Homo sapiens: one gene and its partners. The protein of the gene in region 2 purifies or fractionates together with the protein of the main gene of each other region. This does not show direct contact. Each region holds a gene or a part of one and is shown on either strand. Other genes may lie near its edges.

The links.
Region 1: the proteins of PRSS37 (region 2) and CD109 purify together in Homo sapiens (affinity purification with mass spectrometry; one large-scale study listed by BioGRID and IntAct). This does not show direct contact.
Region 3: the proteins of PRSS37 (region 2) and FAT1 purify together in Homo sapiens (affinity purification with mass spectrometry; one large-scale study listed by BioGRID and IntAct). This does not show direct contact.

Annotation. Positions count from the first base shown.
Region 1 is NC_000006.12:73,699,051-73,702,702, reverse strand, and holds part of CD109 (CD109 antigen isoform 1 preproprotein), read right to left. Parts: intron 1-3,652. UniProt on the Homo sapiens protein: Modulates negatively TGFB1 signaling in keratinocytes.
Region 2 is NC_000007.14:141,838,534-141,842,715, reverse strand, and holds the start of PRSS37 (probable inactive serine protease 37 isoform 1 precursor), read left to right. Parts: upstream 1-1,230; 5' UTR 1,231-1,666; coding exon 1,667-1,700; intron 1,701-2,366; exon of another isoform or gene 2,367-2,451; intron 2,452-3,236; coding exon 3,237-3,378; intron 3,379-3,711; exon of another isoform or gene 3,712-3,780; intron 3,781-4,182. UniProt on the Homo sapiens protein: Plays a role in male fertility. May have a role in sperm migration or binding to zona-intact eggs. Involved in the activation of the proacrosin/acrosin system.
Region 3 is NC_000004.12:186,717,281-186,720,932, forward strand, and holds part of FAT1 (protocadherin Fat 1 isoform 1 precursor), read right to left. Parts: intron 1-3,652.

The DNA of each region.
Region 1 (3,652 bases), on a different chromosome or scaffold from region 2:
CCACAGCCACACAACCACTAAGTGGAATGGCCAGCACCTGTGCCCAGGTAGCCAGGCTCCAGAGCCCAGGCACATCGTGATTATGCTGTGGTCCTTTATTCTCAGGTACCACCTACCTGTTAATATACATCACACACAAGAACAAAGACGATGTGTGAATGAAAAGCCTACACCCTTTAAAAATAATTCTAACATAACTGCAGGTTCAGACTGAGTTATGTTGGCAAAGCTGCCTGTGAAAACCTGCTCTGGGAGATCTGCCCACACACTACACTAATTAATCTACTTTCATAAAGACCATGGGACTGATTTTTATCTACGAGGCATGAAATGCATGTTCAGGAGCTTTGTTTCCACCAGAAAACCATCCAAACCAAATTGGATGATTTTTTAAGTTTTTCAGCTAATATCTCAATTTTTAAAAATTTCCCACCCTTACTGAGCCAAGATGGAAAATAAAATATATCATAGTCAATGTGAGAAAGACAACAAAGGAAAAAATAGATTTTTTAAAAAATCTTTAAAAAAAGGTTAACACTCCATTAACTCTCCAGGATTTTAGGGCAAAAAGAAAAAGCGAGTTACAGACACATTTATAGAGCACATTCCACCCCAGTAACTCAATGGGAAGATGGAAGTAGGATTGGCAGCATTTAAAAAATGGTGCCCCCAAACCAGCAGGCACTCACCTGGAGACGCCCATGCAGAGTTCCCAAAATTTCAGTAGGCATTTTCAGTTTAGGTTTTTGGGAGTTTTTGGTTTTAAGGGTTCTTTTGTTTTTGTTTTTGAGATAGAATTTCACTGTGTTGTCCAGGCTGGTCTCAAACTCCTGGGCTCAAGCAATCCTCCCACCTCAGCCTCCCAAGCTCTGGGATTACGGTTGTGAGCCACTGCACTCAGCCTCTAGCATTTTTTCTTAAATCAGGTTTACATGAAACTAATGATGATGAATTCATTAATGAGGGAGAAAGGTTATATTCTTTATTACTTGAAGTGACTCTTGTTCAGGAAAACTACTGAAAGTTTACAAATGAAAATGTCAAATTGTAGCAAGAGAAGGGAAAATAAAACAGAAATTATGGTTTCAAGGACATCACGAAAATTAAATTATTTTATATGCCTTAACAGATGAGAGGACAGTTCTCAAAATGTTCTTAATTTCTTTTTTCTTGATTTGGCAAGGAACTCCTTTCACAGTAAGGAAAGAGAAAAAAAATATGGGAAGAGACAAAGGGACAGACTCACTCTCCACCCAAAACAGTAATCTGACTTGATTTTAAATGCCAATAGCTGTGCCATCTTCTTTCCTCTGGTAATTATTACCTGCTGAACTTTTACTACGTTTTGCCAGTTATGTTTATTTAACTAACTCTTTATGCAAAGGAAGATAAGATTAGGAACATAGTTCTAATCACTATGGAGCTGATGGCAATGATGCTGATAGTGGTAGAGGCAGTGACAGTGGTAACAGTGACAAGCAATCTTTTGAATCTCACTACTAGAAAGGCATTGATACACCTTCCCAGAACTCTGCAAAGTGTAGCAGAAATACTTTTTCTAAAGGTCTATTATTCACCAAAAAAAAAAAAAAAGCCCATAATCGCTGGGCACGGTGGCTCACGCCTATAATCCTAGCACTTTGGGAGGCCGAGGCAGGCAGGTCACGAGGTCAGGAGTTCAAGACCAACCTGGCTAACACAGTGAAACCTCGTCTCTACTAAAAATACAAAAAATTAGCCAGGCATGGTGGCACATGCCTGTAGTCCCAGTTACTCGGAAGGCTGAGGCAGGAGAATCGCTTGAACCAGGGAGGCAGAGGTTGCAGTGAGCCGAGATCGCACCACTGCACTCCAGCCTGGGTGACAGAGTGAGACTGTGTCTCAAAAAAAAAAAAAAAAAAAAAAAAAAAAACTACAATCAATCCCCAATAAATGTAGAATTAATGTATTTTTAAATGAATAACAGTAATATAACCTACACTCCTGGCCATAAAAGTGGAAATGTAAATAAAATCTCCCCCATATCTGTCAAACAAACAAATGAACTCTTCCCTGAAGAAATGCCATACTTTTTCACCTTTATTAAATACATTCTCCATTTGAACAATTTAGTTATTACTATTTCCAACACAAATTGAGCCAGAAATCTATTGTGGTTTGGGTAAAACACCTCCCTATCCTGAGGATTTCTAAGAAATCCAAAACTGCTGGAAATAAGCTACTAAGACACAGTCTACTGCCTTACCCAACTTTACTAGAAGATAAATCTTTATTAAAACCAACCTTCTGTTGGGGGGCTGGGGGTGGCTCATAGGAAAATGAAACAATCAGGCTCATACCCATAATCCCAGCACTTCGGGAGGCTGAGGCAGGAAGATCGCTTGAGCCCAGGAGTTCAAGACCAGTCTGGGCAACATAGCAAGACCCCATCTCTACAAAAAAAAAAAAAATTTTAAACCTAGCATGCTGGCACTTGCCTGTAGTCCCAGCTGATTCAGGAGGCTGAGACAGCAGGATCACTTGAGCCCAAGAATTCCAAGTTGCAGTGAGCTATGATTTCACCACTGCACTCTGGCCTGGGCAACAGAGTGAGACTCTGTCCCTTAAAAATAAAAGGTATTTATTTGTTGGTGTTTGGTGTTTATGTGATGGAGAAAAAACAAAACATGAATCCACATCCAGATACTTGAAGATCCAGACCCCTGATTTAGAAGTCCTGGTTTATCTACATATTGTTACAACTGGAGAAGCCAGATAAAGCAAAGGATGTGAAGACAAGCAGGGAGAAGTGTCTTGATCCTCAAGTCCTCACATTACAGGAAGCATCTGCTCTGAGAACAATAACTCCCAGCCTCTGATAATACAGTAACATTCTCCTTTGAAACAGGAGAGTGCTCCTAGCAATGGCATTTTCAATGAAACTCTATGTCAATAGAGTCAAAAACAGCCCATGAAAGAAGCAGCGTTTTCCCTCCTTCCTTCCCACAGATCCATTCTGCTCCCAGGACAGCTTTGCCCGCCCCAGTCTTGAGTACTTGAACTTTCCTATGGGCATACAAGGAACCCTTCTCCCAAAAGAAGATCTAAGAATAAAGCTGAAAACCAAGCCACAACAACATGCACCCCAATGTAGGTACTATTTGTTGCAAAAAAAAAGAGAGACTGATAACAGAGATCACAGAAAAGACCTAACAGGTGAAATTCTAGAATTAGAGTATGTAAATGTCCAAGCAAAGCTCAAATATTTATCAAAAACATCCATATATATTCTGGATCTCTGCATTGCAGGAAAACTGCCACACTAGTGGAGCCAATATTATAAATTCTTTTTTTTTTAACTTTTATTTTAGTTTCAGGGATACACGTGCAGGTTTGTTATATAGGTAAAATGCCTGTCATAGGGCTTTAGTGTACATGTTATTTCATCATCCAGGTGATAAGTGTGGTACCCAATAGGTGGTTTTTTAATACCCTCCCTCTTCCCACTCATAAATTCTTAATGAATAAATAATGAATGTGGAACTACCTTAAGTATTATGTCCTGTGATTTAATATTTCAATATTTTCTTTAGCGACTATCATAAGATCAGGGGTCATTCATTTTCAGAAATGATAGTCCAATAACGAAAGTTGAAGTCTGCCCCCATGTAAA
Region 2 (4,182 bases):
CACTCCACATGGACATTGCCGACTGCCCAGGGATTCCCCACCATAGACACTCATTCCTGGCTCGAAGTTTGGTCTCTCTGACCCCATTTGTGATGCCAATTGTAACAAGAAAAATCCAGAATCATATTTTTAAAAAAACCTTTCCCCCAAACTAGGAGGGAGCCAAGAGACCAAAGAATGACTCAGACAAGTCCAGCTTGGCCAGTGGATAAGTTTATTAGGACTTACATATGAGACACTCCTAGATAGCAGAGGACACCTTTAGAGACCTGCCCTGCTTTCCATCTCTAAGCTGCTTTTAAGCTAATTTTCTGGCTCTTTGCCTACTGTGTGTGCATGATGGGACTGTTTTCCTTGATAGGTTCTCAGGTATTCTCTGGGATGTTTGGGTACTCAAGGACACCTGCTCCTCAGCTGGACACCATGGCGTTGACTCACCACTTGGCCATCAAGGATACCTGCTTCTTGGCTGGGCACCGTGTCCTTGACTCACTACTTAGCCATTAAGGTTCAAGCAGTGGTCATACACCCTTAAGTATCCTGGTGGGGGACCTGCAACCCTACACCAGTGACAAGGCCTATTTCTCATTGTCCACGACATGTGACTTTGGGAAAACTACTTAGATTCTCTCTGCTTCAGTTCTGCCACCCACAGACCAGAAATAGATACCAGACCCAGCCCTATCTCTTCTTTCTAGGGTTGTTGTGACATTTGGAAAGAGATTATGGGTTTAAGAAACTTTAAAGGGTTAGAGTGATACAAAGTGTAGTGAATTTTACATCTCAGACTAACCTGATATAAAATCTCTACTGACAAGTCCGTAAAGATCTTAGCTCAGTGCCTAGGATTCAGTAAATGCTTAGAGGATATCAGCTATTAGTGTTACCGCTCATTTTCTTGTTAGACTATGCTCCCAATTATCCAAGGATGACTTTGGTAGTCTAATATTGGTCTAAGTCTTTAAGTATTAGAGGTACTGCCTTCTGAATTGTCACCAGGCCTAATGTCATCTAGACTGTAAACAATTCCCCAACTATCAAGATAACTGTTCTATGAATGCTTTTCATTTCCATATTTTCTTGGCTCAATGCTGTTGCTCAGGACAAAAAACACCAAGTTGGTGATGATGACTGAGTGATGAAACAGTGATCAGAGGGACATATGAAGCTAGTGTAACAAAGATGGGAGGGGCTGGGGAAAGTATAAGTAACTATTAGGAGGTTCAGAGCAAACCTCAGGACACTTACTCCCTGAGCTAAGGTAAAGAATATTGTCCCTCATAGCCCTGGTCTCAGAAACTCTGTGGGGAAGATAAGTCCTGAGCCTAGAGCTGCCATTTCCACAGACAACTGAACTACCTTCAAACAGATGTGTTTTTAGGGGCAGCAGATAGAAGGAGCTGAATCCAGGAGTTTCCTTCCCTGAAATGCCCCAACAGAGGCACAGTCCTCCACCTTCCCTGGAACAGAGGGCTTTCATCTGTCTCTCTGAAGCCATCTCCCTCCCCTGTTTATGCCCAGAGCTGCTTTCCAATCCCATGGAGTGCCTCCGTATCTAACCATAGCCACTGAGTCTACCAGGTGTTCCTGAGAAGACAACTAAGCCAACCGCTCCACACTCTGCTGATTTTCTTCTACATCTCACAGGGGGAAGAGCTGGATCACCATGAAATATGTCTTCTATTTGGGTGTCCTCGCTGGTATGTACTCAAGACCTTGTACTCTGTCCTGTAAGGCACAGTTTAATGGATGGGGTGAGACAGAGGCAGGATTGCGAAGGGTGCAGAAAAAGAGTCAAAAATAGTGTCATCAGCAGAATTAGGAGTCCTGCCTCTCAGACTCCATCCAAAGGCTCTCCGGATAGGCTGAGCCCACTTTTCTAGTGTTAAGCTATAGGGTGGGTTAAGGCACACATGTGCCTTGGAGAAGGCTTAACAGTGAGTGTCCTCCCACCGACACTAATGCAGAAAACAGAGAAGTAGAAACAAAAGATCAAGTACTAGGACCCTACCTTCTGTAGTCCTTGCCCCACATGGGGTTCTTCTGACAGCAGAATTTGCAGATGAGGCATTTCCCACCATTCTCTGACTGCCTAGGTTGTATCACACATTAGCTGTGTGAGATTAGCCAAGTTAATTAACTCTTCTGTGCTTCAATTTCTTCAAAATGGGGGTATGACTACCCATATTATAGAGCTATTGTGAAGATTAAATAAATCTATGTAAAGCACTTAGAACAATGCCTGCTATAGAGAGCTCAATGTCTCTTGCCCTTGTTTACAGTCTACCCTTTTCTCTTTGGGGTTTCTAACTGTGTGATCACACAGAAGGGTGTGGTGAGGTACAGACCCAGTCTTGGGGAAGGTTAACAGGAGTAGCAAGAGAAGCCAAGACAAGAAGAGGGCTTTATTTCTGATACTAGAATCAGCCTTCCTCCCCTTTATTCTCTAGGGTATGTTTTAAATAATTCATTTATAAAAACAATATATGTTCATATTACAAAATTTAGACATTTTTAAAGTAGAAAAATAAGCATCATTCATAATCCCACCTCTTAGTCAACACATGCTAACACTTTGAGTTTACTCTCAGAATCTATATATTTTTTGCATTTAAATGTTTTTATTTATTTGTTTTTAGACAAATAGATTATATCCACAATTTTCTTGTTCTTTTTAACTTAAATAAGCATTAATATTCTTTTGCTGTTTAATATTCTAATTAGTTTAATTTTTATTATATATGATGTTCCACTTTTTGATGTGCTTCAATGTCCAACATTACTATGTCAGATATTTATGTTTCCAGTGTTCAGCTGTTATAGCTAACATGAGCATACTTGTTTGTAATCCTTGTCTATATCTGATTTTTTTCTTTAGAATGGATTCTTGGGGTTGGAATGATTAGGTCACAGGTTATAAACAATTTATGATTCTTGATGCCTGTTTCTAAATTGCTTTTCAAGAAGATGGAATCAATTTACTAGCAGTGATGAGTGTCTCTCATTATACTCTCTTAGATTGAATATTATCAATATTAAACAAAATTATTATAAATATAAGATAAAATGGCATATCGTTTTAATTTACATTTTTATTAGAAAAACATGTCAAATACGTTAACACTTCTTGGCCAACTGATAACTGTTTAAGAATCATCCAGATTCCTTTTCAAGTAAGAGACTGTTACCTTATTTTTATAATATTTATGTATTAAGAATGTTCATTATTTTCTCAGGGACATTTTTCTTTGCTGACTCATCTGTTCAGAAAGAAGACCCTGCTCCCTATTTGGTGTACCTCAAGTCTCACTTCAACCCCTGTGTGGGCGTCCTCATCAAACCCAGCTGGGTGCTGGCCCCAGCTCACTGCTATTTACCGTTGAGTATTTGGGCATCCCCATCCCCAAAACAGCTACTGTTCATTCTAGATCAGTGGTTCTCATATAAGGGTAACTTCTCTACAGGGTACACTTGGCAATGTCTGAAGATATTTTTGGTTGTCACAACCAGGGGGCAGTGCTATTGGCATCTAATGGGGAGAGGCTAGAGCAAAGATGCTGTTTAACATCCTACAATTCACAGCACAGTCCCCACAATAAAGATTTGTCCAGCCCAGAACAGCAATAGTGCCACTGTTGAGGAACCCTGTGTTACATGTTATGCCTCCTCAGACTCTCATAAGTTTTTTTCTTTTTTTTTTTTTACTGGCAGTATGAATGCATTTTATCACTTAAAGATCTAGCAGGTAACTGATGATGCACTCAAATTGGGTCAATTGAGGTGAGTTTTAAGAAGGAACCAATTGCAAAGGTATGGAGACATTAAAGGGACAATATTAAGAATAGTTCCATACCACCAGGGTTTGTATTAAGAAAATGCAGTTACCACCTCTAGGCCTAAAAAGGCAAGAGGAGAAGATAATTTCAAAGGAGGCAAGGAGAGATAGAGAAAAAGCGAGACCTGTGTGAGGAGACAGCCTGATAAGGATTGTAACCCCTAGTCAAGGAGCACAGCCACTCTGTGACAAAACTGCAGGGAGGGACCTGGGAGGATAAGTACTCCAATCTCACTCTTCTTCCTCCAGTTACTTTCTGGTGCTTCCTATTGGCCAATAGAAGGAAGCCAGAGGACAAGAGAGCCCACTGATTAAATCCATATATGTCCCCTTCCAAAGGTGCAGAG
Region 3 (3,652 bases), on a different chromosome or scaffold from region 2:
TTTTCAACCCATCTTCATATGATTTTCAGCATGAACGGAGGAAGCTGTGACCCTAGAAATTGAGCAGCAGCCTTAGGCTTGGTATATGTCATTTAATCACTTCTGCTAACTCCATTTATATGTTGTTATCTTTGACTGGGGCTGCAATAATCTGGTAACTCTAGCAAGACATACTTTAAATATTGCCTTCACATGATCAACCACCGGTTCCAATTTAACCCTGAGAATGGTCTTTACTGACAATGACAGTGTGGAACTACAATCTGGCTTTTTCAGAAAACTTCACCATGTACATGATTTAATCAATCCAAAATAGATTCCTGAAGTGTTCCTGCCCTTAAGAAAGATAAACAGATGTCCTATTTTTCAAACAGCCTCTATATAAAACCTAGTTATCTACATGAACCTATAAAACATGTCTGTTGGCATTACGAAGATGACGGGTTCTAGTTGTTCTGTGCTCCTGGGAACGACAAGACAGGACAGGTAGGCAGCGGCTGTGTGTCTATTTCTGGCAGGGTGAGGCATTCCTGTGCTATTCTCTTCTTTCCCCTCTCTATATATTCCTTATCCTCCAACCACTTTCTCCTCATCCACATTCCAGGACAAACTTTGCCCAAGGAGAAGCTCAATGGACTGTTGACCTCTTGTGAATGGAGATCATCTCATCTAATGTATTTTTCTCCACAAACAGAAGTAATTTAAATGACATCTTGGCAGAGTAGCCAATAATCAACAATGGCCACTTCTTCCACTCCCAAGTTGGTAAGTAAGACTTTATTTTATACGTTGAATTGGGCTCCCTGTATAATTAGATTCGGTCAACCCTTCACTAAATGACAGACCAGGAAAGTGAATGTTCCATGTACAGCAAGAAAACGGAAATCTTCAGGGAGAAAAGTCCATCTTCCCTCCTCCTCTTAAAATGTTCTCTTCACCTGTTCTCTCTTCTTACACCTCAGAAGAGATGCCACCCACCCTAGCTGCAAATAAAGATACTCTGATACCACAAAATCCTGCCTCTTCTACAGCTCCTCCCACTCCTGACACCTTGTGCAGAATCCATACACACACACAGGTTCTTCTCCTACTTAAAAAATAAGCTTGGCCAGACACGGTGGCTCATGCCTGTAATCCCAGTACTTTGGGAGGCTGAGGTGGGCAGATCATGAGGTCAAGAGATTGAGACCATCCTGGCCAACATGGTGAAACCCCGTCTCTACTAAAAATACAAAAATTAGCCGGGCGTGGTGGCATGCACCTGTAGTCCCAGCTACTCAGGAGGCTGAAGCAGGAGAATCGCTTGAACCCGGGAGGCGGAGCTTGCAGTGAGCCGAGATTGCGCCACTGCACTCCAGCCTGGGCGACAGAGCCAGACTCCGTCTCAAAAAAATAAAATAAAATAAAATAAAATAAACTTCATTCAAACCTTTGCTTCTTTCAAACAAACACTCTTATTCTTCTCTTTTTTTATACTGGCAAAGATCGCAAGAAAAGGAGTTTCACAGCACCGCCCTGGCTTCCTTAGAACTCCCTCTCCGCCAAACGCTGCTCCACAGAGATCCTGCAGGTCCACCCTGGCAGAACAGCCGTTCCCGCATCACAAGCTAATGTCAAACCAATGACCTTTTCTCAGTGCTCATCCTCCTTGATTTCATGACACCTTTGACACCACTCACTCCCCTCCCCAACACTCCTGATCCTTCATTCGGTCACAGAGTCCCCCAAAACAAAGAGGCAATCCACAGGTATGAAAAATGAATGACAACATTCTCCTGATTCTCTTCCATACTCTTTTATACTCTACACTGACTCACCTACAACTCTGGCATTACAAACTTGTCTTCCAACTCTTCCTCCACATGCATTTATTACCACCCTTAAAGATCTCATCTACTCTGCCTCAAATCATGAAGGATCAGTGCACCAAATCTGCAATTTCAGCTCTAACCTCTCTCAAACACCTCGTAACATTCCTCCTAAAATACCATCAAACCTAAGTTATACGATTGGCCTTCACTATATAAGAGTTCTGCATCCATGGATCCAACCAACCTCAGGTTGAGAACGTCTTTAAAATAAACAATAAAACAGTAAAAATATAAATAGTACCCCATTTTATATCAGGGACTTGAGCATTCTCAGATTTGGGTATAAAATCCCAAACCTCCCTTAGAGACCAAGGGACAACTATATAGACTTTTCACCCTTTCGCCATTGCAAAATAACAGCTCTTCCAGTTATTTTCCAATCTCACCACTTCCCAAATCAACCAAGTTTGCAAACTAACAAATCAAACAAAAAGGAAGGGGTTGGGAGAACATCAAATGTGGAACCTAGCTCCAGCTTTGTCACTAATCAACTGTGTGAATTCAAGGAACTTGCTTAATCCTTTCGACTCTATGTATTCGAGAAATTGAAGGATGGACTAAAATCTTTACAGCCTCCTGGCTCTCAAACCTTCATTTCTCAAAAGTTATCCAAACTTGACATTTCTTTCTCAATTTCTCAAAATGGTTCCCTTTGCATTTCTGCTGCTACCACCTAGTTAGAATGGGTATTTTGTTCATGCAGAGTATTCCTACAGTCTTTTGGTATTCCTGCTTTCTGCCCCCAATCCCAGTCAACCTATTCAAACTTCTTTGTGATATTATTCTTTAGCTTGAAAATATTCAGTATTTCCCCTTAGCCTGCTAAGTATATGATTCTTAACCTTGCATTAAAGACCTTTGATAATCTAACCTCTAACTAATTTCCTAATTTCCCAACACTACTTCTTATTTCAAAACAAAAAGGCATACTTCCCAGACTTGCAACAAGTTCAGTAACCAAGCTGTCTTGAGCCAATAACACCACCTAGTGGTGAAGGCTCTAAAGTAATGTAACATCTTGACCTCTTCCCTTCCGAAAGATAATGCAAACATTACTATTTTCTTTGTTTCCTGCCCTCCACTCCTCACATACAGCTTATTTGTTTTCACCTTTCTCTTCAACGTTTCTTTCTTTTTCTCTCTCCTTAACCTCTGCCTCATAAAAACAATCCTCCCTTTTTTAATAAGATTATTTAAGTCATAGTCAAGATTCTCTATGTTCTACCTAGACAAAAAAAAGAAGCCAATCCTTTTCCTAAGATAACATGGTACGGTGAGGTCTTCAGAATTTCTCTCCACTCATCACACCACAAGCCACACTATGCTTTCTATAACTTGCTTTGCACACATCATTTCCTCTGCTTGAATTGTTCCCCTCTGATTCACACTTCCCTCAGAACTCACATTATCCTAAATCCACCTGCCCCAGATCCCCCAGCTCACTGAGGTGCTGCTATGGACCACCTTGACCTGAATGGATCTCTTATCACACTGGTCTATAAGAGACTGTGTACTTGTCCTCTCCCTTATCAGACTACGAGCTGCTTGAGGGCAGGAAACACGATTTGTTCAGCACTAGATGTTGTGTCTGGCCCAATGTTTGACACAGAGGAGGTCCACTATTGTTGGATTGGTAAATGGACAGATGAATAAAGCGTTAAGAGTGAGAAATGTGAGGCAGGACTGTGTTGGGGAGGGGATATAGAGAGGGATAACATAGGAAAATAAAACATCCATCCTTCTCAAATTAACAGAAAATCCAGGCACAACCACGAGGCTGG